Homo sapiens: one gene and its partners. The protein of the gene in region 3 interacts with the protein of the main gene of each other region in a biochemical or structural test. Each region holds a gene or a part of one and is shown on either strand. Other genes may lie near its edges. The genes, in order: STAT3, CREBBP, MYOD1 and EP300.

What was found.
Region 1: the proteins of MYOD1 (region 3) and STAT3 form a complex in vitro, tested with the Homo sapiens proteins (one study listed by BioGRID).
Region 2: the proteins of MYOD1 (region 3) and CREBBP form a complex in vitro, tested with the Homo sapiens proteins (4 studies listed by BioGRID, with this or other methods).
Region 4: the proteins of MYOD1 (region 3) and EP300 form a complex in vitro, tested with the Homo sapiens proteins (4 studies listed by BioGRID).

Annotation. Positions count from the first base shown.
Region 1 is NC_000017.11:42,385,421-42,393,321, forward strand, and holds the start of STAT3 (signal transducer and activator of transcription 3), read right to left. Parts: upstream 3,023-7,901; 5' UTR 2,859-3,022; intron 1-2,858. UniProt on the Homo sapiens protein: Signal transducer and transcription activator that mediates cellular responses to interleukins, KITLG/SCF, LEP and other growth factors. Once activated, recruits coactivators, such as NCOA1 or MED1, to the promoter region of the target gene.
Region 2 is NC_000016.10:3,870,714-3,877,736, forward strand, and holds part of CREBBP (CREB-binding protein), read right to left. Parts: intron 1-7,023. UniProt on the Homo sapiens protein: Acetylates histones, giving a specific tag for transcriptional activation. Mediates acetylation of histone H3 at 'Lys-18' and 'Lys-27' (H3K18ac and H3K27ac, respectively).
Region 3 is NC_000011.10:17,715,575-17,722,591, forward strand, and holds MYOD1 (myoblast determination protein 1), read left to right. Parts: upstream 1-3,996; 5' UTR 3,997-4,208; coding exon 4,209-4,838; intron 4,839-5,327; coding exon 5,328-5,406; intron 5,407-5,680; coding exon 5,681-5,934; 3' UTR 5,935-6,562; downstream 6,563-7,017. UniProt on the Homo sapiens protein: Acts as a transcriptional activator that promotes transcription of muscle-specific target genes and plays a role in muscle differentiation. Together with MYF5 and MYOG, co-occupies muscle-specific gene promoter core region during myogenesis.
Region 4 is NC_000022.11:41,144,584-41,151,606, reverse strand, and holds part of EP300 (histone acetyltransferase p300), read right to left. Parts: intron 4,869-7,023; coding exon 4,791-4,868; intron 3,771-4,790; coding exon 3,661-3,770; intron 2,570-3,660; coding exon 2,432-2,569; intron 1,847-2,431; coding exon 1,409-1,846; intron 1-1,408. UniProt on the Homo sapiens protein: Functions as a histone acetyltransferase and regulates transcription via chromatin remodeling. Acetylates all four core histones in nucleosomes. Histone acetylation gives an epigenetic tag for transcriptional activation.

The DNA of each region.
Region 1 (7,901 bases), on a different chromosome or scaffold from region 3:
ATCACTTGAACCCGGGAGGAGGAGGTTGCAGTGAGCCACGATCATGCCACTGCACTCCAGCCTGGGTGATAGAGTGCAACTCCAACTCAAAAAAAAAAAAAAAAAAGTATATATTTGTTGATTTGCACATCACCTAAGAAAACCATAAGCTAAGAAGGTTTGGACTCAGGCGTCTGGAAAGTTGGTCACCACCTCTACCCCACCTCATATCTGAATGTCAAGAGACACGTAGAGGCAGAGAAGTTAAAGCAACTTTCTAGAGACAGAAATGACCACTGATCAAGCCACAATGCACTCTGGTTTAAATGACATTTAGGTCATGACTGTCCTTAATCTAAAACAAACCTAGATTAGTATTTCTTTTCATTAGTAAATAGCTAAATTCTGATGGTAAATTATGCTGACCAAAAACAGTTCCTCACTTCCCAAGTTAGACATAGCAATTAGAAAAATAATCTAAGCAAGCTCCATTTGTATTTCTTTTTTCACCTGTTTATTGAATATTTACCTCCCATGAAGTCTTTCAGCCTATTGGTGGTATTTTACTGTTCAGATATATGTTAGAATTTCACTGATACTTACTGGGCGCGGTGGCTCACACCTGTAATCCCAGCACTTTGGGAGATAGAGGTGGGCAAATCACAAGGTCAGGAGTTCAAGACCAGCCTGGCCAATATGGTAAAACCCCGGTCTCTACTAAAAATACAAAAATTAGCTGGGCGTGGTGGCGCACGCCTGTAGTCCCAGCTACTTGGGAGGCTGAGGCAGGAGAATCGCTTGAACCCAGGAGGCAGAGGTTGCAGTGAGCCAAGATTGCGCCACTGCACTCTAGCCTGGGCAACAGAGCAAGACTCTGACTCAAAAAAAAAAAAAAAAAGAATTTCACTGATACTTTTCACAAAATATACAGAAGGAGGCACAAATTCCACCACTATGGCACTCTGCTGCGTTGGCCAAGTGTCTTGATCCTTTGGCCTCAATTTTCTTATCTACGATATTAGGGTAATTGTTATGTGAACTACCCACCTCACAAGTCCTTTGTGGGTTAATTCATAACTGTGCTGTGGGTATTTCTTTTTCTTTCCTTTCTTCCTCCTTTCCTTTCTTTCTTTCTTAAAGATGGGTTCTCATTATGGTGCTTAGACTAGACTCTAGACCCAATTCCTGGCCTCTCACCATGTTGCCCAGACCAGACTCAACTCCTGGACTCAAGGAATCCTCCCACCTCAGCCTTCAATTAGCTGGGATCAGAGGTGTGCACCACCATGCCTGGCACTGTGGATATTTCTAAGTGATTATTCTTCTCAAATGAACTACATAAAAAACAAAAGATTCATGAATTTACTAATGGTTCTTTGTGATGGATGTGCTAATATAGAGACTAAAATCAAGGCTCCAACCTCTAAAACATTTTTTTTTAAATTCCAGACTTGTTTCCCCATCCCACTGTGCAAACTGAACAAAAACTGGGCTAGCACTCCTGTCTGGAACATGTAATAAGGAAATAAATGTGCTGACTCAGAGAACACAGACATATTTAATATAAAATAAGATAGAAAACTGGCTGAACCAAGTCATAACACAGTCTAAATCCACATATAAAAGATTGAGATGATTTTCTGCTTTGCTTTATTCAAGCCCAATGCTTTATCAGCACAGCCAGCCAAAAATTTACAACCCATACACAGACTATGTAAACCTTTAGTTGCACATACAGTAAGACCAGCAGGTACACACTATACACATTTTTAATTAAAAAAATGACTAACCACTGATTTTGTCACCACACTTAACAACGACCTGATATGGCACAGAGTGATGTGTACCAAACATGGAAATACCAACTTGGGCGACGGTTTGAATCTTGTTAACTTCAGTGCAACCACACCCCCCAAATGCATGTAAAGTTTGCACACATGGTTTTTTCAAGGCCAGCCTGTCTTTGTTTCCCTCTCCTCTGCATTTACCCAAGATCTTGGCTCTGAGACAGAAAACTCCCACTCTCAATTGGTTCATTCCGTCCTATGCAATTAAGCAACACCACAATCCAGTAAATGCAATGGCTCAATTATTTATCTTCTGGCCGACTTTACCAGGTATTTGGAAAAGGACAATGTCAAGAGGTTTATTTCTCTCTCTAGAGCTGGCTTGACGGGTTGATGGGGATTTTATTTTGTCTTTTTTTCTCTTTTTTACAAGGCGGGGACGTGGGGGGAGCATAATTTAACCTAGAAAAAGATGCGAGGGAATTTAGAAAGAGTACCGGTCTGTCAATTTCCCTACAGGAAACTTGATTCTTATGCAATAAAGCCTACCCACGACCAGCCAGCCCGTAAGGCTGCAGGCGACAGACACACCTATTCCTGCCTCCAAAAGGGCACAGCTGTCTCCTGAAGGAGCGGGAACAGGGCAAGCGGAGGAAGTGGCTCAGCGGGAGCCGCCGACCGGGCGGGGAGGAGGCGCTTTCCGACCCCCCACTCGCGCCGGTGATCCCCGTCGGCGTGACAGTCGCTCCGGTGGCCGGAACGTCCCCAGGGCCCCAGGGAGCAGGAAATCGGGGGACTGTCCCTCACTCCTGCCGCCGCAACCGAGTGCGCCCTCGCCCCACGGTGCCCCCTCGAGCGCGTTCTGTTTCTCCGAAGAACGAAACTTCCCTCCAGCGCCCCGAGTCCCTTCCGAGGCCCGCTCCTGTCATCCCGAAGAGTCTTCCCTCAGGGCGACCCTCCGCGTCTCTTCATCTCTCCCGGCCCCACTGCAGCGTCCATCACAACATCCCCAAGGTCCCAGAGGCCCCCTGCCGCTGCGGAGCCCCCGGGTCCCCAGGCCTCCCCAACGGCCCCACCCTGCACCCCCTTCACCTGTTTCTCCGGCAGAGGCCGAGAGGCCGGGGCTGCGCGTGTGCCGGGGACGGGCGGCGAGGCTCCCTCAGGCCGAAGGGCCTCTCCGAGCCGAGGGGGAGAGACAGCGCCAAGCCGGGGTGCCTGTCCAGGATCCGGTTGGGGCTTGTTCCCTCGGCTGCGACGTCGGAACCCCCGGCTCCCCCTCCCAGTCTGCGCCGCCGCAGCTCCGGAAACCGCTGAATTACAGCCCCTTCAGCCAATCCTCGCCCAGCCCCAGCCTGGCCGAGGCACGCCGTCATGCATAATTCATGAAAGGCCAGCTCGTTCGGCCACCCAGAGGTCCCAGTGCGTGTGCGGTACAGCCGAAGCCCCGCCCACTGACCAATGAGGAGAGCAGCTAGGAGAAAGGGCGGAGCCAAGAGGAGACTGATACGCCCCTGTGCTGGCTGTTCCGACAGTTCGGTGCTCCTCCCTCCGCCACAGCGAGGGAAGAGCCGAGGACTTGGGCACAGAAGCCCGGGGGGAGGGAGGGAAGATGACCGGAATGTCCTGCTGAAAACTCAGCTGAGTTCCTGGCAGTGCGTGACGTCAAGGCACTTTAAATGCCCCTGATACAGCTCCCTCCTGCCCGCTCTCCCTTTTCCCGGCCCTTGGCACCACGTGGTGGCGAGGTTGAGAGCCTCTTACCACGCGGGAATCAGCTAGTTAGATAGTCCCCAGGTATCTCCAGATCCTCTGGGGACCCAACTCCTGAATTGGGTTCTGGGGACAACAAAAAGAACATGGGTGACTCCGCCTGCTTTGAACTTCAGTTTCTGCGTGAGCAGGGACACACACACCCGGAAACATGACGTGGAAATAGAGTAATTACTAGAGTGCGTGGGGAGAGGGTAGTGGATTTAACCCCGTACTCCGTTCCATCACTTCAAGCATCAAACGCCGACCAGCTAGCCCATTGGCCCGTACAGGCGAATGCAGAAGACGGTGTATACGAAAGCTGATAACGTGTAGGGCTTGACATTTTTATGCGTCTGAATTGAAATACATGAAATGTTCTGCCTTTTTCTTTTCCACCTTGCCTACTTGGTATGCAAGTTTTACTGAATTGAAGCCAGTGGTTGATAGGAAATGTAGACATTTTGCCTTTCATAATAGAGGATGAACTTTGCATAATGGAGTGATTTCTGTGTATGTGCTGATACTATCAGGGTTTTTAATTTTTATTTTTTTGGGTCTTTAAAAATATGTTATTAATATTTGTGTTTGTTTAATACGAACAGGTATAAAGACAAAAATCTAAAAAGGACCCATTATCTCACTGCTCAGCTAACCCCTGACATATTTTTTTTCAATGAACCTAATACATGTTCCTGTTTAGAAAATGCAGACCGTTCAGAAAGGTCAAAAATATTAAATGAAAATCTTTCCCTACCCCCATCATTCCTTCTCCCCAAGGATAGCTGTTCTTATTAATTTCTAGTGAGAAAAATCAATGACTCTTAACCTTTGAAGGCAGTCACAGATCCTTCTGAGTGTTTGAAGGAGACTAGATTCTAGCCCCAGAAACAATACAAGGTTTTACTCACATGGTTCCCCAGATACCTGAAGCCTGTCTAAGTCTACAGATTCAGACCGCTCGTACCACCTCATATCCAATGAGGGACAGAGGCATCTACAGGGCAATTCATAGGGTCACTGGTGGTGAGAATTGAGAACCTCCTATTGCCCTCTGGTAGACACAGCTCAGTATGGAAATTGCTGTATTTACCTGTAGAGTGTGTGTGTATTGATTAGGCTGTTTATCTACACCACAGGACAGATATCCCCCATCTCCGCCTATAGTCTCTTGTAACTACGCTATCCCGTGCGGCCAACTGCCTCCCTGATAACATAGGGTCTAGGATTTGTTTAGTGATTTACTGCTTACAAAGGACTTACACACCTTATACACTCCCTGCCTGGTTTCTTTCTCACAATCATGAATAGCAGATAGGAGAGGCCATATTATCCGCTGATAGAAAACTAAAGACAACATAATATGACATTTTCAAGATCACAGAGAAACTCAGAAATATACCAGGTTCAGAGTCAGGTTTGGGGGCTTTACGTCCCATAGCTTTGTTCCATTCATTCAAACCCTGCCCTGCTTCTGACTTCTCAAGAGCTGGCCTCTGTTTCCCTCATTGGCCTCCCCACCAGTAACACATAAAATCTACCTCTGCGACTATGGGTTTGACCTGCAAAAATTCTCTTCAGCCCAGACACTGGCCTTTCTCCACAACCCCGCCAAATTCCTCTTGGCTAAATGCTGCAATTTCTGTCCCTTGGGCCACTGCCTTAACCACCTGATTATTCTCTCCTTATTCTATCCTATTCTTCCACTGGCTGCCAGGGACATCATCCTAAAAATTAAATAAATAAACATTCAGGCCAAGGCGGGTGGATCACAAGGTCAGTTCAAGACCAGCCTGGCCAACACAGTGAAACCCCGTCTCTACTAAAAATACAAAAATTAGGCTGGGCACTGTGGCTCACGCCTGTAATCCCAGCACTTTAGGAGGCTGAGGCGGGCAGATCACCTGAGGTCAGGAGTTCGAGACCAGCCTGACTAATATGATGAAACCCTGTCTCTACTAAAAATACAAAAATCAGCCAGTCATGGTGGCTTGCACCTGTAATCCCTGCTACTCGGGAGGCTGAGGGAAGAGAATCTCTTGAACCCGGGAGGTGAAGGTTGCAGTGAGCCGAGATCGCGCCATTGCATTCTAGCCTGGACAACAAGAGCGAAACTCCATCTCAAAACAAAAGTAAAAATTAGCTAGCCATGGTGGCACGTGCCTGTAGTCCCAACTACTCAGGAGGCTAAGGCAGGAGAATTGCTTGAACCCAGGAGGTGGAGGTTGCAGTGAGCCCAGATCCCTCCACTGCACTCCAGCCTAGGCGATAGAGCAAGACCCTGGCTCAAAAAAAAAAAAAAAAAAAAATTCAATCATGTCACAGTCGGCTTAAAAATCTCTATGGTTCCCTACTACCGGCAAGATAAAATCCAAGTTAATTTTTTTTTTTTTTTTTTTTTTTGAGACAGAGTTTCCTCTTGTCGCCTAGGCTGGAATGCGATGGTATGATCCTGGGTCACTGCAACCTCCGCCTCCCAGGTTCAAGCAATTCTCCTGCCTCAGCTTCCCAAGTAGCTGGGACTACAGGTGCCCACCACCATGCCCAGCTAATTTTTGCATTTTTAGTAGAGACGGGGTTTTACTGTGTTGGCTAGGCTGGTCTTGAACTCCTGACCTCAAGTGATCCGCCCACCTCAGCCTCCCAAAGTGCTGGGAGCCACCGTGTCCGGCCAATCCAAGTTAAATTTTAAAAATGCTGACCAGGCACAGTGGCTCATGCCTGTAATCCTAAAGCTTTGGGAGACCGAGGCAGGAAGATCATTTGAGGCCAGGAGTTCGAGATCAGCCTGGGCAACATGGCAAAACACCAACTTTACAAAAAATTAGCCGGGCGTGGTGGTGGCATGCCTGTAGTCCCAGCTATTCTGAGGACTGAGGCAGGAGGATCACTTGAACTTAGAAAGAAGTTCGAAGTTACAGTGAGCTATGACTGTTCTACTGTACTGTAGTCTGAGCAACAGAACAAGACCAACCTTGTCTCAAAAACAAACAATAAACAAAAAGCTGACCATTTAATTCAGTGCCATGGCTGGGCGCGGTGGCTCATGCCTGTAATCCCAGCATTTTGGGAGGCCGAGGCGGGCGAATCCTGAGGTCAGGAGTTCGAGACCAGCCTGGCCAACATGATGAAACCCCGTCTCTACTAAAAATACAAAAAAATTAGCTGGGCATAGTGGCGGGTGCCTGTAATCCCAGCTACTTGGGAGGCTGAGGCAGGAGAATCGTTTGAACCCGGGAGGCAGAGGTTGCAGTGAGCCGAGATCATGCCACTGCACTCCAGCCCAGGCAACAAAGTGAGACTCTGTCTCAAAAAAAAAAAGAAAAAAGAAAAAAACACCATAATTCAGTGCCATGCATGTGGTAGGAGCTCAATTGATGTTCCTTCTTTCTCCCTCTTTATTTGAATCATAAAATCCTACAGGCCCAGCACAGTGGCTCACGCCTGTAATCTCAGCACTTTGAGAGGCCGAAGCGGGTGGATCACCTGAGGTCAGGAGTTCAAGACCAGCCTGACCAACATGGTGAAAGTCTGTCTCTACTAAAAATACAAAAATTAGCCAAGCGTGTTGGCGGGCACCTGTAATCCCAGGTACTCGGTAGGGTGAGGCAGAAGAATCGCTTGAACCCAGGAGACAAAGGTTGCAGTGAGCTAAGATTGCACCATTGCAATCCAGCCTGGGTAATACAGTGAGACTCTGTCTCAAAAAAAAGATAAATTCCACAAAGGCTGACCTGAATCCCCCCTTTTCTAACCTAGTCCCACAAACCCTACTAAATGTGTTACCTTCCTCCAAACATGTCTACACCTTCTGCAACTTCATGCCTCTGTGGATAGTCTTCCTTCTACCTGGAATCTCTTTCCTCAGTCCCTACCTGAGAACTCTTACTCATTCTTCAAAGCCCTGTTGCAACATCACCTCCTCTAGGCTTCCTTCTATTCTTACTGGCAAAGTTAATCTCCTACCAGACTCCTTCGGCAGGTTGTTTCCCCATCTAGAATACATTCTCTACCTTGAATTCTAATAAATCCACATATTGGCCTACTTCCTGAAAAAAAACAATAATTAACATTGATTAAGTAATTACTACTATATTCCAGGAACTGTGCTAAGCATTTTACATAGATTATCTCATTTGATCCTCACCAGAACCCAGTGAGGGTAATATTATAATTCTTATTTTACAATTGAGGAAACGAAGACTGAGAAAGTGAAAGACTGGCTCAAGACTGGTCTCACAGCTAGAAACTAGGTGGAAACTCAGAATGAAAATCAGGTCTGGCTGACTCTCTGGCCACGTGCTAACAAACATCTTCCCCTAAACTGTGGGTTCCTGGAAACTTGAACCCCTTAAGCCCTGTCTTCATAATCTCAGCATCTATCAT
Region 2 (7,023 bases), on a different chromosome or scaffold from region 3:
TCAGGCTACATCATCTTAGTCCTCACTGGCCCAAGAAGTAGGTGATGGCTAATATTTTCCCATACAATTAAACAATAAAAACAGCTGCCTCAACCTGCTATATGCCAGGCACCCTAGTAGCCCCATGTACCAAGATAATCAAAGTAAGCAGAAGTAGAGCCAGGCACAGTGGCTCCATCTCACACCTGTAATTCCAGCTACTCAGGAGGCCGAGGCAGGATTGCTGAAGGATGGGAGTTCAAGACCAGCTTGGGCAAGCAAGACCCCATTGGAAAGAAGAAAAGTAATGTAAAGAAGGGGAGGGGAAGGGGAAGGGGAAGGAAGGAAAAGAAAGAAAGAGAAAAAAAGAAGGAAGGAAGGAAGGAAAAGAGAAAGAAAGAAAGAAAAAAGAAAGAAAGAAGAGAGAAGAGAAAGAAAAGAAACAAATGGAATACTGCAGGGTAAAAAGCCCCTTTTAGAGATCTCTCTCTCTCTCTCTCTCTCACTCACACACACACACACACACACACACACACACACACCCCACCCTGCAAAACTCAAATGTGATGTCACCAGCCCAAGTCACAGCGCTGCCGAGCTGGGAGCTGGGACTCACAGTCTACTCTGAGCAGGAGCCAGGGCTCCCTCCTCAGCACCACACTGACCGCCTCCCCGTATAAAAAGCTGACATTTCCTTCAACTGTGACTCACAGTTAGAAGGTTCTACTTTTAATCAGGTGACAAATACTCAAAATATTTTAATCCAAAGCAACTGGGTCAAACTCGTAGAGTCTATAATTGTCTAAGCAAACCCTAATTACCTGATAAATTTCTATAGCTCCTGAATGTCCTCATTCAGTTTGTAATCAAATACCCAAATCTCCTTATTTAAATGTTGTACAAGCCTTCTCTACATGTTATCATACAGAACAGTGACTTATTTTTCTATTTCACTGGTTATTTTAACCATAAAGTTAAAACATGTTTAGGTGGTGCAGTTTTAATAAGAAAAATCCAAACTAGGGGGAGGAGAAGCAGCTTGTGAATTATAAAAAGATTTGCTTTACAACAGAATTGTACAACTCCACTACACAACTACTTTTTCTCCTTACCACAGATTATGCAAATTCGAAAGGTTGAATTAGGTGCAACTGGAAAATATACCTACTGTATACAATATAGTACAGGCATATTAGAAAGGCAAATTAAGACATTTTCAAACAATAGCAGACAGTACAACTAGAAATGGGAAAGTAAAGTCAGATTTAATCATGTAGAATTATTTTCCCCATTAGATTTTACTATTCTTAGCAATGGTTCAACTAAACAGTCTTTTGATTAATGGAAATGAAACACCGGGGAAAATGTCACACGGGATAATATCCAAATCTTTCTTAAGGGTAAGTTTTAAAAGGAATTCAACTTTTAGAGACAGAGCTCAAAAATAGCCTTGCTTCCTAAATTTAGAACCAGAAAACACCCTAAAGGCAGTATTTTAAATACAGCCACAGTCACCGCCTATATTGTCTAGGAACTTAATAAAAAAAACTTTAAAAAGAGAGGGGCCACTTTTGTTTACTTCCATGCCTTTCACACAGCCTTGCCCAATTTGATTTGTGTGCCCTTGCTCAAATCTCTTCAAGTCACAGCTCAAATGGCAAAGACCTGACCACTCCAGGACGCCCCGGGGACTCTGCTCGTGGCCTATTGTAGCACCCCTGTCAGCAGAGCACGGCCCCAGGGAAAGGAGAACAGGCAAAAGCCCCCACAGGCACTGCTCCCAAGGCTTACACTTCTGCATCAAAGACTCATGCAATAGGAGAATTTTGCCGAAAGCCAAGTTTGAGCCTGACTGAGAAGAGCAGCATCCTTTTCCAGTTAAAGCAAGGAGTGTATCCGGAGGGATGCACTGCAAGGAAAAGACCTCAGAGAGGACTAAAGGGAACGCTGAGCGCATGTGCTAAAAAGCAGACGGCACGGCCAGGAGCTTCAGAGCCTAGGAGAGACGGGACAACCAGAAGAGGACTCAGATGTGAGCAAGCCATGGGCCTACAACGATACCCCAGGAAACAAACTGTCATGGTCAGGGTGCTTTTCCCAACAACCAGGAATGCATGGAAAACAGGCAGGCTTCCCCAACTCCTGGCTCTGTGCTGGCTCAGCAGAAGAGCTGTCACAGGAGCCCAAGGCTCCTCAACCATCCCAGGGCCTGCCTCCCACTGGGGCATGCGGCCCTGGACTTCTGCACACGGGGACACTCAGGAAACAGGGGAGGGAGTAAATGAAGCCTTATTCAGATCACCCTTTCTGGTTCCAGAGTTTTTGCACTTGACTGCATTTCTGTACCCTTTCCTTAAGTTTTGCCTCGAGGTTTCATCTTCTCAAGATGGTTCTAAGTACTCACAGGCATCTATCAGAATCCTGTGTACACTGCTAATGCTTAACAGGTACCTCAAGATAAATTATACACAGTAAACAAACAGAATCACATACTTGTCTGCTGCTTAAACAGTCCATGAAATATGCTTCAAAATTATCAATAATTTTCAGTGTACATCCTGATTTGATTTAAAAGAAAAAATAATTCAGAACACACACCATTTAAGTTTTCGTAATTTTAAGCTTTCATGGCCATCACGTTCCTATTTTTAAAAATACAATAAAAAATGGAGACAGAGTCAATGGTATAGATGACAGAATTCCCGGCTATGTATCTGCTGAGGTGCTACACTATCACACGCGTGCCTGCACACTGGTTTCTGTGGATACGAGCACACATGGCTTCTGTCCTTTCCAGAACTGCTGAGAAACAGGTCTTGCTCCAATCAGACTAGCACTCCCAGTAAGTCCTAGGACTTACAAGGTACGACAACGTCCCTGGTTAACGCTAGTGTCAGTTCCCATTGGGCGGATATGCCAGACACACATCATCTCAGGCTACCCTCATAACCACCCTGAGATGGGAATTGTTATTATCTCCATGTTACAGATGAGGAAACTCTGAGCTCAGAGAGCTGATGTAACTTGCCCCAAACATGCTCTGGCCTCAGCACTCCTAAGGCCAGCTGGTTTGGTGGCCGGGTGGGAGCCCATGGGTACGGAACTCGGAAGCAAATAACAGACCCAATTAGAAGATAGGTGGCAATCTGCTTGAAAGTAAAACCTTAACAAGAAAATGATAAGAACTTTAAGGGACAAATACTATATAATTCTTTCACTAATTCCCTCAAATATTTCCTGAGGGCCTACTATGTGTCAGGCACTGCCCCTGGGGAGGGAAGTGCTGGGAAGAGGGCCGTGGAAAGGCTCTGGAGTTCTTACTGACGCTCACCTTCTGGTGTCACAGGAAGGGGAGCAAGCCTAGAGCCTGAGATGACAAAGACGGACGAGAAATGCCATGTGGGCCACTGGGGTCAACAAAAAGCAAAAGAACAAAGAAAAATGCAACCGGTCACCAGGCTTTCTGATAAATTCGTCTGATTTTAAATCAAGTCATCCATATAACTGTTACAGAGGAACAAAAAAGACAGAGAGAGAGGGCCCTGCTAAGCTCTGAAGTGCTCCAAGACAGGAGACCCAAGCTAGCCTGCTGCTCACCTGGGCTCTCCCGGGCTCCACATCATGCAGCTCAGAAAACTTGCCCTGCTGCTGTTTTCCTTAAAGCTGTCTGTGCAGCCGTGGTAGGCCAGTGCTCCCCAACGGGTGCTCAGAGAATGAAGTCCCACGTTATATCAGTCACCAAATTGCAGCCCATGGGCGAAGTCCTCAGATGCCAGTCTTTACAACTAGAGTTTTACTGGAACACAGCCAGGCCCACTCGCCTATGGCTACTTTCTTGCTGAAATGGCAGCCTTGAGTAGTTGCAACAAGAGACCATATGGCTCAGAAAGCCAAATGCGTGCTCTCTGGCCCTTTGCAGAGGAAGTCTGCGGACCCATAATAGGCTAAAAAGAGTTCTAGCGTCAAACAGGATTGAGAGTGGTCCAACTGTAGCCCCTCTCTCACAGTGCCCAATCAGGACACCAAGGCTCTGGGAAAGTCTGCAGTCAAATTCCTCAGCTACAAGCAACAGCATCTGAGCACAAACCATTTGTTGAGAAATACCTCTTAGCATGCCCTCTAGTTTCTTGGAATACATGTGAAGAGCTGGTTTGAGTAAGGTAAAGAGGGGTGCCCTCACTAATGGGACCCCAAAAACTAAACTGACAAGCTTTTGCAATCTTCAGAAACTCACAATAAGGTACATTTCATCTTAACTAAGGTAAGACACACTTTGGCAAAATCATTTTCCTAACTGTTTTCAAATACATCAAGTAAAAACACAAGTCAGCAATTATGGACCCCCCAGGTAATCACATACTTTGCCACACAATTACAACACACTACTTAGAAGCTGTGAAAACACAGGCGACTAATCTAAGCATCAACTTCCAACTGCAGGACTCAGTCTCTTTGTAAGTTATGTTCAATTCTGTTTACAGAATCAAATCTGAATGTTCAGCCAGGAGCGACTTTCCATCTTCTGAAGGCCCTCTAAGGCGCCCTGCACATGACTTGTCCTTGCCTACCTTCATCCCTGACGACCTTTGAATGGGGCCACCGCTCTCACCCCTCTCAGTTATTCAAAAACGAAGCACGGTCATGAAATGTCCTAGTCCTAAAAGTCTCTATGACAACTTTTATTCCTACTTAGCCAGAACTCACTGATGGGGTAACATAACCGTTTCTCATTCTCCCTGAGGTAAACAGGAACACGAGCCCACACACGTCACGCTGAGGATAACACCAGAACCAGAGGGAAAAGGGGGACGCCCTAACCCAGGAGGAAGAATACACTCCTGGCTGCCCCCACCACAGGTGGTTACAAACCTCCCCCTTAGTGATCTCATTCATGTGCGGGAAGGCCGCTACTGAAACTCACTAAGCTTGGCAGGTTCCTGGGTCGATTCAAGTAAATGCATTGTTTACAGATAGAGACTTAGAAAATAAATATATAGAGCTACGGACTTTAACAATCTAGTTTGGATCTGGTTTTGACCCTGTATCACCTCTCAAGTCCAGTTCCTCACCTAGAAAATAGCAGTAACAGCATCTTCCCTTCCTCACAGGACGCTGTAAGGATCAAACTGAGGTGACGTGGAGAAAAGCACTCTGATACATAAAGTACCAGACATACATAACAGACCATTTGGTTGACAACCATATTCGCCACCAGCTTTCTTTAAATAAGCTTCCCTATTGCATTTAAAAGGATTCACGTCATAAAATGTAATCACAACTGCTTAGAGCCACTTATACAGCACAGGATGAAACACAGCTATGTTCAATCTTCAGAATGTAGTTTTTCTTTTCCTTTTTCCCCCAGAGACAGGGTCTCACTCTGTCACCCAGGCCAGAGTGCAGTGGCATGATCACAGCTCACTGCAGCCTCGACCTCCTGGGCTCAAGCGATCCTCCTGCCACAGCCTCCTGAATAGCTGGGATTACAGGATTGTACTATTACACCCAACTAATTAAAAAAATTTTTTGTTTAGATGGGGTCTCACTATGTTGTCCAGGCTGGTCTCCAACTGCTGGCCTCAAGCAATCCTCCTGTCTCAGTCTCCCTAAGCACTGGGATTATAGGCATGAGCCACCACCCTGGCCTGCAATTTCAAAAAACTTTATAAACAGTCTGTTGTGTGCAAATTTTGCAATAAAGCTGACCAAAAAAAAAAAAAAAAAAAAAAAAAAACAACCCAGAAAACAAAAAACAAAAGTCTACTGCTTGCCTGGATATTTGTCTTATACTGTTAAATCATGAATCTCTGATGTTGAAAGACACAATATGCTATTTTAACTTGGACATATTAAATAAAGAAGTTTCCAAAACACCCAACTAACTATATACCGGTAATATAAAGTCCCCACTTATTGTAAGGGTGCCAAGTAAAGGAAGACCTCATGTATGAGAAAGTGTAAAGGCTTCTACATAATACAAGAAAATGCTACTTTAACATCTGAGGCCATCAAATTCTGTGCCTCTCCAGGGCTGCTGCTTCAGTGGGGTGAAAGGTACCGTTTCTCTCTTGCTACCCTCATTCGCAGCACATTCCGTATTTCTGCATCATCTCTGCATAAGCTTCCCAGGCTTCGGCAACTTGTTTGTCATCAGTGGCAGTGACATTCATCACTCTGAGGTGCTGCATGACCTTCGGGAGTGCTGTTTGCAACATCCATGCCCCCAGATGAGCAGCACCCTGGCTGAGCAGCTCCCCAATGTCGGGTGCATTTTTCTCTCAGCTCACTGCCACCCTTCACAGACACATCTAAGTGACACTGGTGGCCCCACAGGCCAGTCTCTACAGACATGCACTGCAGTCCAAGTAGATCCTGTTTCTCAGGCTGCCAAGGGCTCCTCCTCCTTTCAACCCCTCAGCTCCTAGACAGAGGTCCCCTCCCTCAAATTTGATCACATGCACCGGGCACACACCCTGCTCCACTAGGCCCAATTTTCCCCTGGGAGCCTCAGAGACACATCCCGTCACTAAAATAAGATTGAGTTCCTCAAGAATGTTATTCTCAGGTCTGTCCCACCTAACCAAATGCCTTCAGTTTTTGAATGTATTTAATGTAAAAACTCAAGCCATTTATTTGTTTAAAATACATCCCTAAGATCTCTGTCCATCTCATTACTCAATTTCTTAGTGGAGCAGTTACAACAGACAAAGTGTCCCTCGTTTCTTTTGGAGACAGCGTCTCACTCCATTACCCAGGCTGGAGTGCAGTGGCGCGATCTTGGCTCACTGCAACCTCTGCCTCCCGAGTTCAAGCAATTGTCATGCCTCAGCCTCTCAAGTAGCTGGAATTACAGGTGCATGTCACCATGCCTGGCTATGTTTTTGTATTTTGAGTACAGATGGGGTTTCCCCATGTTGGCCAGGCTGGTCTTGAACTCCTGACCTGAAGTTGATCCACCAGCCTCCGCCTCCCAAAGTGCTGGGATTACAGGCATGAGCCATGGCGCCCAGCAGCCCCTTGTTTAATGTGCTTGATAATGAGCCC
Region 3 (7,017 bases):
TTATTCAGATTTGGGGAAAATCTAGATTTGCATAGATAAGTGGTTTGAATAGCTCACCTGGGAATCTCAGAGTACTCTTTAATTAAGTAGACTCATTCATTCATTTGCCCAAGAAATATTTATTGAGTGCCTACTATGCACCTGGCTTTCTGCTGAGCCTTGAGCAAGTAGGAAGAAGTATTTGTTTCTAAATCATCAATACAACAATTACTTACATTCCTCATTGTGAGTATAGTGAAAAAACAATAAGAAGACACATCGAGATGCCAAATCTCTCTATAGTATACCACTACAATATTGCAGCATGCCATGTATAATGCCCAGTTCAAGAGAACATGCCCCAGGCAGATGGGGTCTGAGCCTTTCCTGGGAAGAGCAAGTGTAATAGAACATGGATGTCTAATCATGTATGTGACTTCCCAGTTTTGAAGAAATTCAACCATCTTCATTAATGTCACAGTTCAAGACATTCAAATATATGCATAGAGATGCAAAGGGCGTGAGGCCACTCATTCATTCACTGGACATTTATCAGGTGCCTACTGTGTGACTGCCACTGTGATGGTTTTTGGAAATGTCATTGTGAACAAAACATCTTTGCCTTCATGGGGCTAAGTCAGTCATGAACAAACTAATGAAGAAGATTATAAAGAGTGGCAGTGCCTGGAAGGAAATTAACAGGGTGGTGTGAACCAGAGTATGGGGGGCAGTTATCTTAGAGGGAATGGTCAGTGATGTCCCAAGGAGGCAAGAAGATCTATTATATAAAATGCAGTCAATCTTGGGAAAAGCCCAGGGGATAATGCTATGAGTTTAGAGCAGCAAGGACAAGGCTCCAAGGCAGGATCCTGTTCAGAGTGTTAGAAGACAAGAAAGGAGGTCAGGCTAACTGGAGTAGAGCAATCAAAACGGATGGTGCCTCCAGGTGTAGTAAGAGACACAGGCTGAGGCTAGCTCATGCAGGGCCTGATAGGCCAGGGGATGGAGATGAGATTTTACTCTAAATGCAAGAAGCTGCTGGGGAGTTTGAAGCAGGAGGATGGCATAATCCCATTTACATTGTAAAGGTCTACTCAGGCTGCTATGTAACGAATGGATTATACTGAGGCTACAGAGGAAGTGAGGAGGGCAGCCAGGTTATTGTGGTCATCCAGAGCAGCAGTGTGACAGCTTAGTCCAGGATGGTGACACTAGGGATGGACTGACTTGAGACAGGTCTTAGAGGTAGAATGGACAGCTCTTCCTCATACTCAGACCTCTCCTTGGGAACTCCAGCCTTAAAAATCCCCCTGCCTAATCCACACTTCCATCTGGATATCCGATATGCATTTCAAATTTTGCCCAAACCTGGACACTTAATCTACCACCCACAAACCTAGTCTTCTCAACTCCATTCTTGCAGGAGTCATCCTTAGCTCCTTGCTTATCTCACTTCCCACATGCAATCGTGAGTAAATACTGCTAGCTCCATCTTGAAAACATATATCTAGAATTCAACCACCACTTTTCACCAGCTCCACTCACTGGGATTATTGCAATAGCCTCCTAATTGGTCTCCCTCCTTCTGCCCTTTCCCTCCAGTAACCAGCATGCTCCTGTTAAAATGTAAATCAGATAGTGATATTCTTCTCTTCCGCTCAAGCCCTCCAGTGAGATGGCTCAAGCCATCTCAGAATATAATCCTGTTTCTCTCTCTCTCACCCCATTTCCCACTATCTCTTTTACTCACCCTGCTGCAGACATATGAGCCTCCTTGCCATACTTTGAATCTGCCAAACATGGTCCTGCCTCAGGACTTTTGCACATGCTTATCCCTCTATCTGGCCCTACATATCTCCAGGTATCTGCTTCCAATTCTCTTCATTCAGGTCTCTGCTTAAATGTAGCAGAGAGGCCTTCTCTAATCACTCCATAATCTTCATCACTGTGTCTCCCTGCCTTGCTTTTTCTTCATAAGGCTTCTAACCTCCTGGCATCACATACTTCCTTGCTTATTTGTTCATTGTCTATCACCCTGCTTACATTGACAATGTAAGTGCCATGTAAGCAGAGTCTTGGTTTTGTTCATTGCTCTAGCCCCACACTTGGACTGGTACCTGCCACATAATGGATACCTAACAATATGTGGATTTCCGGGTGACCCCCTGCAGCTTGGGTGGGGTGAGGCCAGGACTTTGCTGCCTCTGCCAGGATTTAGAGTTACTGTCACTGCTGCTCCATGATGTAGACTTTACTGAATGAACAAATACAGGTGGGCCCTATGGAGTAAAGCGAGGTGAGTACTTCATGAAGGGAGACCTTCAGCACCACTACCAGCAGCAGAGAAGTGAAGAAGTTAGGACCCCAACAGAGCCCTCTGAGTTTTGTGGGAAGGGAGGACTTCTTAGGGCCCAGAACGGCCAGCTAGAATGCCTTCCAGAAGTTAGTGGGAAAGGCACAAAGATCACTCCTGCTTAAATTTCTGGTTTCCAGGAGGGGAGATCCAGGCAGGGATGTATGGCCAACGGAGATTCCTAGCCAGAGTGCTGAGAGGACTGTGTGAACTGCAGATTCAGGAAGAGGCTGAGAGACCCCCATGGGGGTGGCCGGTATGCTGAGGCTTGTATGGGAGCCAGATATCCCACATCCCATGGGGTGGTTGCCTCCTCCTGTTTCCAGCCTTTCCAGTGAGGCTGCAGGAAAGAGACACAGCTAAGGCCTGGAGACTCGTGGCACTCCGTCAGGGCATGGTACCACAGATGAGTTGTAAGCCTGCGGGACACAGCATCCAACTCTGAAAGCCCCTTGCTCGAATAACCCTACATCACCGCCTGAGGGCTTCCATATCCTTGGTCTCTTCAGACTGTCATCCCCACCACAATTACTCCAAGAAATTACTGTCATCCCCAAATCTATAACTGGAAACTGAGGCTCAGGAAGGAGACATGACTTCCACAAAATCACACAGTTGGGAAACTCTGGAGTCTGCACTCAACTGGTCTGCAAACCGCACTCTCGGAGACTTCAGGTGAGATGAGGTCAGGTTCTCAGGCCAGGTCCTGAAGTTTGACACCTTGGCGAAATGCACTTTCCTTGACTCAGCACCGCGAGTGAGGCGGAGCCAAGCCCCGAGCAGAAGGGTTTTCTTCCCAGCTGAAGAGGCAGCTCAGCCTAGACCCCAGGCATGGCACTGGACACCCCTGCTGTGGAAACGTGCAGATTTAGATGGAGGGGATTCCTAACCTGGGCAGGATCCGAGTTTGGAGAGATTGGCGCGAAGCTTTAGCAGCAATCTCCGATTCCTGTACAACCATAGCTGGGTTTCTAAGCGTCTAGGGAAGAAGGACTGGGCCCACGACCTGCTGAGCAACTCCCAGGTCGGGGACTGGCGGAATATCAGAGCCTCTACGACCCGTTTGTCTCGGGCTCGCCCACTTCAACTCTCGGGGTCTCTCCGCCTGTTGTTGCACTCGTGCGTTTCTCTGCCCCTGACGCTCTAAGCTTTCTGCTTTCTGCGTGTCTCTCAGCCTCTTTCGGTCCCTCTTTCACGGTCTCACTCCTCAGCTCTGTGCCCCCAATGCCTTGCCTCTCTCCAAATCTCTCACGACCTGATTTCTACAGCCGCTCTACCCATGGGTCCCCCACAAATCAGGGGACAGAGGAGTATTGAAAGTCAGCTCAGAGGTGAGCGCGCGCAGCCAGCGTTTCCCGCGGATACAGCAGTCGGGTGTTGGAGAGGTTTGGAAAGGGCGTGCCGGAGAGCCAAGTGCAGCCGCCTAGGGCTGCCGGTCGCTCCCTCCCTCCCTGCCCGGTAGGGGACCTAGCGCGCACGCCAGTGTGGAGGGGCGGGCTGGCTGGCCAGTCTGCGGGCCCCTGCGGCCACCCCGGGGACCCCCCCAAGCCCCGCCCCGCAGTGTTCCTATTGGCCTCGGACTCCCCCTCCCCCAGCTGCCCGCCTGGGCTCCGGGGCGTTTAGGCTACTACGGATAAATAGCCCAGGGCGCCTGGCGAGAAGCTAGGGGTGAGGAAGCCCTGGGGCGCTGCCGCCGCTTTCCTTAACCACAAATCAGGCCGGACAGGAGAGGGAGGGGTGGGGGACAGTGGGTGGGCATTCAGACTGCCAGCACTTTGCTATCTACAGCCGGGGCTCCCGAGCGGCAGAAAGTTCCGGCCACTCTCTGCCGCTTGGGTTGGGCGAAGCCAGGACCGTGCCGCGCCACCGCCAGGATATGGAGCTACTGTCGCCACCGCTCCGCGACGTAGACCTGACGGCCCCCGACGGCTCTCTCTGCTCCTTTGCCACAACGGACGACTTCTATGACGACCCGTGTTTCGACTCCCCGGACCTGCGCTTCTTCGAAGACCTGGACCCGCGCCTGATGCACGTGGGCGCGCTCCTGAAACCCGAAGAGCACTCGCACTTCCCCGCGGCGGTGCACCCGGCCCCGGGCGCACGTGAGGACGAGCATGTGCGCGCGCCCAGCGGGCACCACCAGGCGGGCCGCTGCCTACTGTGGGCCTGCAAGGCGTGCAAGCGCAAGACCACCAACGCCGACCGCCGCAAGGCCGCCACCATGCGCGAGCGGCGCCGCCTGAGCAAAGTAAATGAGGCCTTTGAGACACTCAAGCGCTGCACGTCGAGCAATCCAAACCAGCGGTTGCCCAAGGTGGAGATCCTGCGCAACGCCATCCGCTATATCGAGGGCCTGCAGGCTCTGCTGCGCGACCAGGACGCCGCGCCCCCTGGCGCCGCAGCCGCCTTCTATGCGCCGGGCCCGCTGCCCCCGGGCCGCGGCGGCGAGCACTACAGCGGCGACTCCGACGCGTCCAGCCCGCGCTCCAACTGCTCCGACGGCATGGTAAGGCCGGGACCCCAGGAAGTGAGGAAGTTAGGGCGGCGCTCGGGATATCAGGGACGCGTTTCCGAGGGCGGGGAGCTGGCCTTGCGGGAGGTTTGGGCCAGGATCCTTCCCGAGAGAGAGGACCCCCTTGTCCTGGGCAGCTGTCACTGGGGTAGCCTGTTTTGGAAGTGTGCGGGCAAGCGTTCGAGCTGCCCCATTGGGGGCGCTATTAGAACACTGCAGCGCGAACGTGAAGATCTTTTTCTCTACTTATCCCTACTTCCAAAATGTAAATTTGCGCCCCTTGGTGACTGTCCGCCCTTGGTTTGGCCCTGCATGTTGCAGACCTCATCTCCTACCCACCCGTAATTACCCCCCCAACCAGGACAGGTCTGGGCCCGGAACTAGAGCCTTAGGCTAGAGTTAGGGAGGGGGCGGCTACAGGAATTGGTGTTCGGGCCTCGAGCCGTCCCGCGGGCCTGACTCAGTCGCCCTTGCTGTTTGCAGATGGACTACAGCGGCCCCCCGAGCGGCGCCCGGCGGCGGAACTGCTACGAAGGCGCCTACTACAACGAGGCGCCCAGCGGTGGGTATTCCGGGCCTCTCCCTGCTCGCTCCTCCTCCTTCATGGAGCTGTCCTGGCCTCTATCTAGGACGCTCCCACCCCCACTCACACACGCCTATGTCCTGGGAAGTGGTGCAGGAGATGAAATACTAAGCAAGTAGCTCCCTGTCTTTTGGATTGTCCCGGACTCTAACTAAAGTCCTCAGTTTCCAATCTGTCTCAAAGTACTGGGCCCGGGGGTGGGAGGCTTGTCGCGGCCCCACCCCTGCTTACTAACCGAGCCCTCCCCGCGCAGAACCCAGGCCCGGGAAGAGTGCGGCGGTGTCGAGCCTAGACTGCCTGTCCAGCATCGTGGAGCGCATCTCCACCGAGAGCCCTGCGGCGCCCGCCCTCCTGCTGGCGGACGTGCCTTCTGAGTCGCCTCCGCGCAGGCAAGAGGCTGCCGCCCCCAGCGAGGGAGAGAGCAGCGGCGACCCCACCCAGTCACCGGACGCCGCCCCGCAGTGCCCTGCGGGTGCGAACCCCAACCCGATATACCAGGTGCTCTGAGGGGATGGTGGCCGCCCACCCGCCCGAGGGATGGTGCCCCTAGGGTCCCTCGCGCCCAAAAGATTGAACTTAAATGCCCCCCTCCCAACAGCGCTTTAAAAGCGACCTCTCTTGAGGTAGGAGAGGCGGGAGAACTGAAGTTTCCGCCCCCGCCCCACAGGGCAAGGACACAGCGCGGTTTTTTCCACGCAGCACCCTTCTCGGAGACCCATTGCGATGGCCGCTCCGTGTTCCTCGGTGGGCCAGAGCTGAACCTTGAGGGGCTAGGTTCAGCTTTCTCGCGCCCTCCCCCATGGGGGTGAGACCCTCGCAGACCTAAGCCCTGCCCCGGGATGCACCGGTTATTTGGGGGGGCGTGAGACCCAGTGCACTCCGGTCCCAAATGTAGCAGGTGTAACCGTAACCCACCCCCAACCCGTTTCCCGGTTCAGGACCACTTTTTGTAATACTTTTGTAATCTATTCCTGTAAATAAGAGTTGCTTTGCCAGAGCAGGAGCCCCTGGGGCTGTATTTATCTCTGAGGCATGGTGTGTGGTGCTACAGGGAATTTGTACGTTTATACCGCAGGCGGGCGAGCCGCGGGCGCTCGCTCAGGTGATCAAAATAAAGGCGCTAATTTATACCGCCGTGGCTCCGGCTTTCCCTGGACATGGGTGTGGGATCCGGAGGAAAATCCGCAAACTGGGCCAGCTGTCCCTCAGCGACGCCTGTAGGCGGCAGGCGGATTGCAAGGAGGAAGCCTGCTGCCTGGGGAAGGAAGGAGGGGTGCAAATTTCTCCAGTACGTGAGGAAGTTCCTCTGACCTTGACTACATTACTACACACGTCCGTGGCTCTTATGGAAGGGTACACAGGTTGATATGAGTATTTTTTAAACCCATGTCTGAGCTCGCCCCCTAGATATTCTGATTTAATGTTTCTGCCCCATATACCCAGGGCCAGGTATTGGTATTTTTTTTCAAAAGCTCCCCAAGTGATTCTGAAGTTCATTCAAGGCTGAGAATCATCCCCTCCATATAAAGTGAGTGAACCCAGGTGTGATAACCAGAAGAACCACGGGAAGGTTGTGGCCCAGGCATCACT
Region 4 (7,023 bases), on a different chromosome or scaffold from region 3:
ACCAGCAACTATTTCATTGATAACTATCATTATCTGGCAGTGTGTGGGGATTTCAAAGATGTCTGCTTCAGAGGAGCTCACATTTATACAGAAATGAGTGAAAGAAAATAAGAAAGACTGGCTTGTTTTTACCTTCTCACCAGAGAAAGTTTCAAAGGTACAGAAAAGGAGACAATAAATATAATGATGTCCCAGAGAGTGGCTGTTTTGAATCGCTAGATTCTAATGAGATAAACTGGCATTCCCTATCTTTATCCTAAGGCTTGTCATAAGAAATCTCTTAATGAGAAGTCAGTATTTTCTGGAAGTATCCTTGATTTTATAAAGAATAAAATCAAGCAGATCCACTGGTTCCTCTCTCATTCTGTCCTTCCTTGTCTATCAGAGGCCACGATGAACCAGCCATCCGTCAAGTACAGTACTTTATAAAACGGCTGTGACTCATGGAACTTCTCAGTTCATCAACATGGCTGAGAACTATTGGATACCGATATATATTAATATCGGTATCAAAGTAGAAGCTTCTAAACCCTTAAAAAAAGTTCTATTAATAAGGATTCAACTATTAGATGAGAATTTGGATTTTTATTATATACATAACCAACCTCTCACAAGGAAGCTACAGGTTGTTCTGGGTCTATAATTCTCTCATCTTATTTTTAAACTTTGGTTTGGGCCACAAGGACTCATAAATCTGCAATTTTTTTTTTTTTTTTTAGACGGAGTTTCACTCTGTCGCCTAGGCTAGAGTGCAGTGGCGCAATCTCGGATCACTGCAACCTCCACCTCCCAGGTTCAAGCCATTCTCCTGCCTCAGTCTCCCGAGTAGCTGGGATTACAGGCACCCGCTACCATGTCTGGCTAATTTTTGTTATTTTTTTGTAGAGACAGGGTTTCACCATGTTGGCCAGGCTGGTCTTGAACTCCTGACCTCAAGTGATCTGCCTGCCACAGCCTCCCAAAGTGCTAGGATGAAAAGTGTACACCACCGCGCCCGTCCAAATCTGCAATTTTTAAATTCAATCTCTAGGTTTTATGGCTCAAACTGTTTGAAAAAGATTCCTTAAATATATGTAAAATTTATGTGCTGCACTAAATAATATACTAAATAAGGAGAAGGATTGTGTCCCCTTGTCGTACCCCTTTACGTACCTTCAGACCTCAGGGTACAACATGAAACATAATGGTCAAAGTCAGAGCTAAATAAAATCTTTATGCTCCTGCTACGATAGGTACTATCACAGGAAGGCAAAACAGGATACAAAAGTCCCTAATGAAAAATAGATTACATTCTACTTGTGGAGAAAACAGTAAGAGATAAAGCAAAAGAGAATGGAAATGGCCCAGAAGTAATATAATACTACAGTATAGCTCTAATGATTCTGCCTAAATCCAAATCTCTACTTACTGGAGTTGCAGGCTGCGGAGGAAGCAGCGGTGCTGTTGGGGTAGGAACAGACGCTGCTGTGCTCTGCTGTGAGCGAGGCTGCTGCTGGGGCTGGTCAGCAGAAGGTGCAGCAGGAAGTGAAGGCTGCACTTGTTGGGGAAGTTGTGTTGTTGGTGGTGTAGGTGTCTGCCTTGGAGGGGGATGTAGAGCCTGGGACTGTGGCCCAGGTGGCATGGCAGGAGGTGTAGGAACAGGGGCTGGAATTGTTGTTGCTGGTGGCTGCTGAGCCCCTATGCTTGGGGGAGTATGGTGAGGGGTGGGGGTACGACTAGGTACAGGCGAGGGTGAATTCTGATGAAGAGCTGGTTGAGGAAGCTGGGGACAGTGAATGTGGCTCCCCTGAGACCCTGGAGGCATTATAGGAGAGTTCACCGGGCAGGAAGAACTAGACATTTGTGCCTGTTAAAATAAAAAACATAACAAGACAGCAATTCAGAACAGAATTAAGGAAATACTTACATAGGCATGATATATAAATTTAGGACACAAACTGATTAAACAAAGAGTAGCAATGTGTCTATTTCAAAATGTGTAAAATACCCTATTACTGGGCATGTATCTTTGGACAGCACCATCAAGATAGTACTTAACTAAAGAGACTTCAAACCATTCAGCAGAATGGCCTCAGCCACCGCAGAAAAATGGCAGAATTGAGTGCAGAGTGCTCTAGGGCCTGCCTATGCTCTTTTCAGCCAGATTTCCTTCTACATTGTGTTTAATTCTAAGATTTATTTTAAAGTGTTCACTAGTAAAAACAATTAAAACTATCCATTTAAATTATTTCCTACTTTGTAACAATTAACACCATTGCTATGTCACAGAATAATCTCTTCATGTTCAGAATACCCTAAGTCCAAAATTGTTATTTTTTAAAAAATCATCTGTTTTCACCCACTATTTGCTGCCACTCTCTCCTATAAAAACCTACATCAAGAGAAGTTTCAAGAATCAAAAATAAGTGAAAAATCCACTTATGAGACATACTTGAGACACTGGAGCTTGACCGCTGGACGGAGCCAAAGGGATATTTGTTACATTCATTCCCTGTGATGGGAACTGAGTCTGAGGAAGGAACTGGCCCTGGTTGGAAGGCTGTTGCATACGAGGCCCATAGCCCATAGGCTGAAAAAAAAAAAAAACACAAATCACCAAACTGCTTCATTATAGTTATTCTACTATAACTAAAATCATCAAATGCTCCTAACGTCAGGCTTATTAAGTAGAGAAAAGCCAAAGACAGGAGTATAGGTGAAGAGGGCTGAAGAGGAGAAGGAAGAAAGTTGTAGAACAACTGACTCTTGTGCCAAGATAAAGAGAAATAGCCTCACAGTTTACCTAGGCCTACTCCAAGAAATAGTAAGAGGATGGAACACACATTCTCTTGGTACACAAATATGCCTAGCACAAGGATAGCAGGTAATTTTCTTTGCATGCTCTGTTAAGTGAGGAGAGTTAATCACAATTTCATGAGGTCATGTCAGTGATGTAATAACACAAATTCTAAGACCCATAATATGTAAAAACAAGAAAATCTTACAAGTTGTAGCAGAATCTGGTAGCATTCATGGTCCACAAATGCTCTAGCACTGTTACATGTCATTTCCAAAATTACCCTACACAAATTCAGGCCTTAAAGAAAGAAATCTCGAGTACCAAAGGCCAAAAACTTCATAAGCTAAGACCATCTGTCTTATAGGTTAAAATGAAGGACAGAACTCCCTGTTGAAAATGGCAGATTAGTGAGAAGTAGTAATGCTCAGGAACCCCCAAAAGGGTCAAGAATCAGAGGCACCAGCTAACTCTAAAGGGCAGCAGGAGGGTTAGGGTCAAGGTAGAGAGATGGACTGGTTAAGAGTTCGCATAAGGAGCAGGAGAAGCCTAGTCTCTCTTCTCCGAGTTCAAGAACCAGGCAAAAACGCACCATCAACCTTGCAAGACAGTTCTCTGCCTGGAGGAGGGAAGACAGACATCAGGGAAGAGAAGTGACCGTGAAAACGCATGCAGGCCACTAAACACTGACACTCCAGGGACAAGGGACTGGCTGTTTTCGTTTTTTGGTCAGCTTTCTAGTAGAGTTAAATACAGAAGAATTACAGAAGAACTAGGAGTTATGGTCTGTTTAAATGACTGTGAGAATTTATAAAGTAGGAACAAACAGGATTTTCAAAATACCAGGTAAAGGCCAAAGAGATTACCAAAGACGTCAAACTAACCGGGTTGAGAGCTCCAGGTTGAGCCAACTGTCCATGGTGCTGAAGAGGAGGGGTTTGCCGGGGTACAATAGGGGGCTGGGCCATGCTCATCTGGCCAAATTGATTCAAACCTGTGAATATGAGCAAAATGTTAGATCTGAATGCCTTTGTGAAATTGAATAATAAAAGATAGAATTCTTATGTCTGATTCTGTATCTTTTTTTTTTTTTGAGACGGAGTCTTGCTCTGTCGCCCAGGCTGGAGTGCAGTGGCGCAATCTCCGCTCACTGCAAGCTCTGCCACCTGGGTTCACACCATTCTCCTGCCTCAGCCTCCTGAGTAGCTGGGACTACAGGCGTCCGCCACCACACCCAGCTAATTTTTTGTATTTTTAGTAGAGACGGGGGTTTCACTGTGTTAGCCAGGATGGTCTCTATCTCCTGACCTTGTGATCTGCCCGCCTCAGCCTCCCAAAGTGCTGGGATTACAGGCGTGAGCCACCGCACCTGGCCCTGATTCTATCAGGACTAATAAACTGGCTTTCAACCTTCTAAGTATAAATAAATCTGTCTCATTCACAGTAGCAGTAAACAGACATTATCAACTAACAGGATCTCCAAACTGAATTTTACAAATTTTACAATCTGCTTTTTTTTTTTTTTTTGAGACGAAGTCTTGCTGTCACTCAGGCTGGGGTCCAGTGGCGCGATCTCGCCTCACTGCAAACTCCGCCTCCTGGGTTCAAGTGATTCTCCAGCCTCAGCCTCCAGAGTAAATGGGATTACAGGCCCGTGCCACTACAACCGGCTAATTTTTTTGTATTTTTAGTAGAGACAGGGTTTCACCACATTGGCCAGGCTGGTCTCGTACTTTGACCTCAGGTGGTACACCAGCCTCGGCCTCCCAAAGTGCTGGGATTACAAGCGTGAGCCACCATGCCCAGCCTGCAGTTGTTTTTTAATGGATACTTGATCATTTAATGTCACCTGCCCTGTGATCTGCCAGCCAACCTGCTCTTCACCCCCTCTTCCTCTATGGGCAGGTAATCATGACACTTGCTGTTGGCATAAAGCGGGTGTTCAGGTAGCAAGTATTATCTTGCAGTACACCGGGGATTCTTTTAAAATAAAAAAATTTTTTTCACTATTTACCAGATTGTGGAGTTATTCGAGGCATCATCTGGTTTGGCACACTGCCACGGATCATACTTGGGTCAGGTAGAGGGCCATCTAGAGTAAAAAAGAGAAATAAGTATCTTTGCACCATCTTCCCTTAACCAAACAAAAACTCACTGCACACACAAACCCCACAAAATATTTTTAATAATACCTTTGAAAATTGAGTATGAATCACAAAATAAAGCTCTGAACTAGACAGAAGCTTGAAGAAAATGTTATTTCTGGAATACAGAAAAATGCCTCCAAGTGGATTTGTTGGTATTCCTTTATGAGCCCGGGTGCTTTCAATGTTGATAGAAAAATAAGCTATTGAAGCCATTATAGGCCAGGCACAGTGGCTCACGCCTGTAATCCTGGCACTTTGGGAGGCTGAGGTGGGTGGATCACTTGAGGTCAGGAGTTCAAAACCAGCCTAGCCAACATGGCGAAACCCTGTCTCTACTAAAAATACAAAAAAATTAGCCAGGCGTGGTGGCAGGCACCTGTAATCCCAGCTACTCAGGAGGCTGAGGCAGGAGAATCGCATGAACCTGGAAGGCGGAGGTTGCAGTGAGCCAAGATCACACGACTGCACTCCAGCCTGGGCGATGGAGCAAGACTCTGTCTCAAAAAAAAAAAAAAAAATTGAGGCCATCATAGCATTTAATATGTTATTGTTTAACAAAGTCTGAGTCTGGTTGGCATGCAACAGAGTATCTCCATGGATAATAGCTATGAATCATGTCTAATGGTGGCCGAATTTGATCATGTAGCACAACGTTTTTATGCACATAAACTGTGAACATTGATTTTAAATAATATGCATATTATACCACACTACATATCATGTACCTCTTAAATACAAAAACAGAAATAATTCTTAAAAAAATAAAATATCCTGTAATCCCAGCACTTTGGGAGGCCGAGGCGGGCGGATCACGAGGTCAGGAGATCGAGACCATCCTAGATAGCACGGTGAAACCCGTCTCTACTAAAAATACAAAAAAATAGCCGGGCGTGGTGGCAGGCGCCTGTAGTCCCAGCTACTCGGGAGGCTGAGGCAGGAGAATGGCGTGAACCCGGGGCATGACCCCGGGAGGTGGAGCTTGCAGTAAGCTGAGATCGTGCCACTGCACTCCAGCCTGGGCGACAGAGCGAGACTCCGTCTCAAAAAAAACCTAAAATATAAATACATAAATTCTAAGGTCTTTTTCCTGGATTATCTGCACATGCTCTAGTGTAGTACTTTCAACATAGTGCACAGAGAAAATATTTTTACAGCACCCTCGGAAAGGACAGATGTCTGTAGTGACCTGGCTCCACCCTGGCCATACCCTCCATCAAGGGCTGTACATTCAAGCCTCAGGCATAGGAGAGGAAGACCTGCTGCTCTTCTAAGGAGATGTCCATCCCTTCAGACAAATTTCAACCTTTAGTAAATGAGCAAAACTGAGAGAGGAAATGCTCAACATTTATTCATATAAACTTTTATCTGTAACTCTGCAAGCTTTATAAGAAGTATATGCATAATCCATGCTCATTACATAAAAATTAAAAATCAATAGAAAAATGAATCAGGATCCAACAAATGACCTTGAGATAAACCTTTCCTCTTCCTCCCCACACATATCTGTATTCACGCACACTATCTACAAAACAATGTTTTCACCTAAGATATGAGTAACTTTTTTTTCAAGTCAACAATATGGATAGGTGTTCCAAGCTAAATGGCAAGTGCCAAGCAGCTAATACCAAGTAAAACTGTTTTAAGTACCCAAAACAATAGAGAATGGTGAGGACTGAAGTGGAGAGAAAACACAGCTCTTCTAGAGTCAGCCATGAGTGCAGCTATAGACAGGTGTCACTGTAGGAGAAAGGGGGTCAAGTCTGCCAGACATGTCCTTTTTTTTTTAAAGCAGCCAGAAATTCAGACTTTTTAAATGCAAAATCTTCTGATTTTTAAGTATTTGAGACTAATCAAATGAAAATGGTTTAAAAATAAAACCGCAATCCTACTGCCCACATTTGCCCCATATGATGCAGATACGAATGTATCTATTATTGCTCCATGAGGCAGCTCTTGTCATTTTAAGGAAACTTGATGAATTATTTAAAGGAACATCTTGATACTATTTTTTAAGATAAATATTTAAAGGCTGGGCGCAGTGGGTCACACCTGTAATTTCAGCATTTTGGGAGGCCGAGGTGGGTGGATATCTTGAGCTCA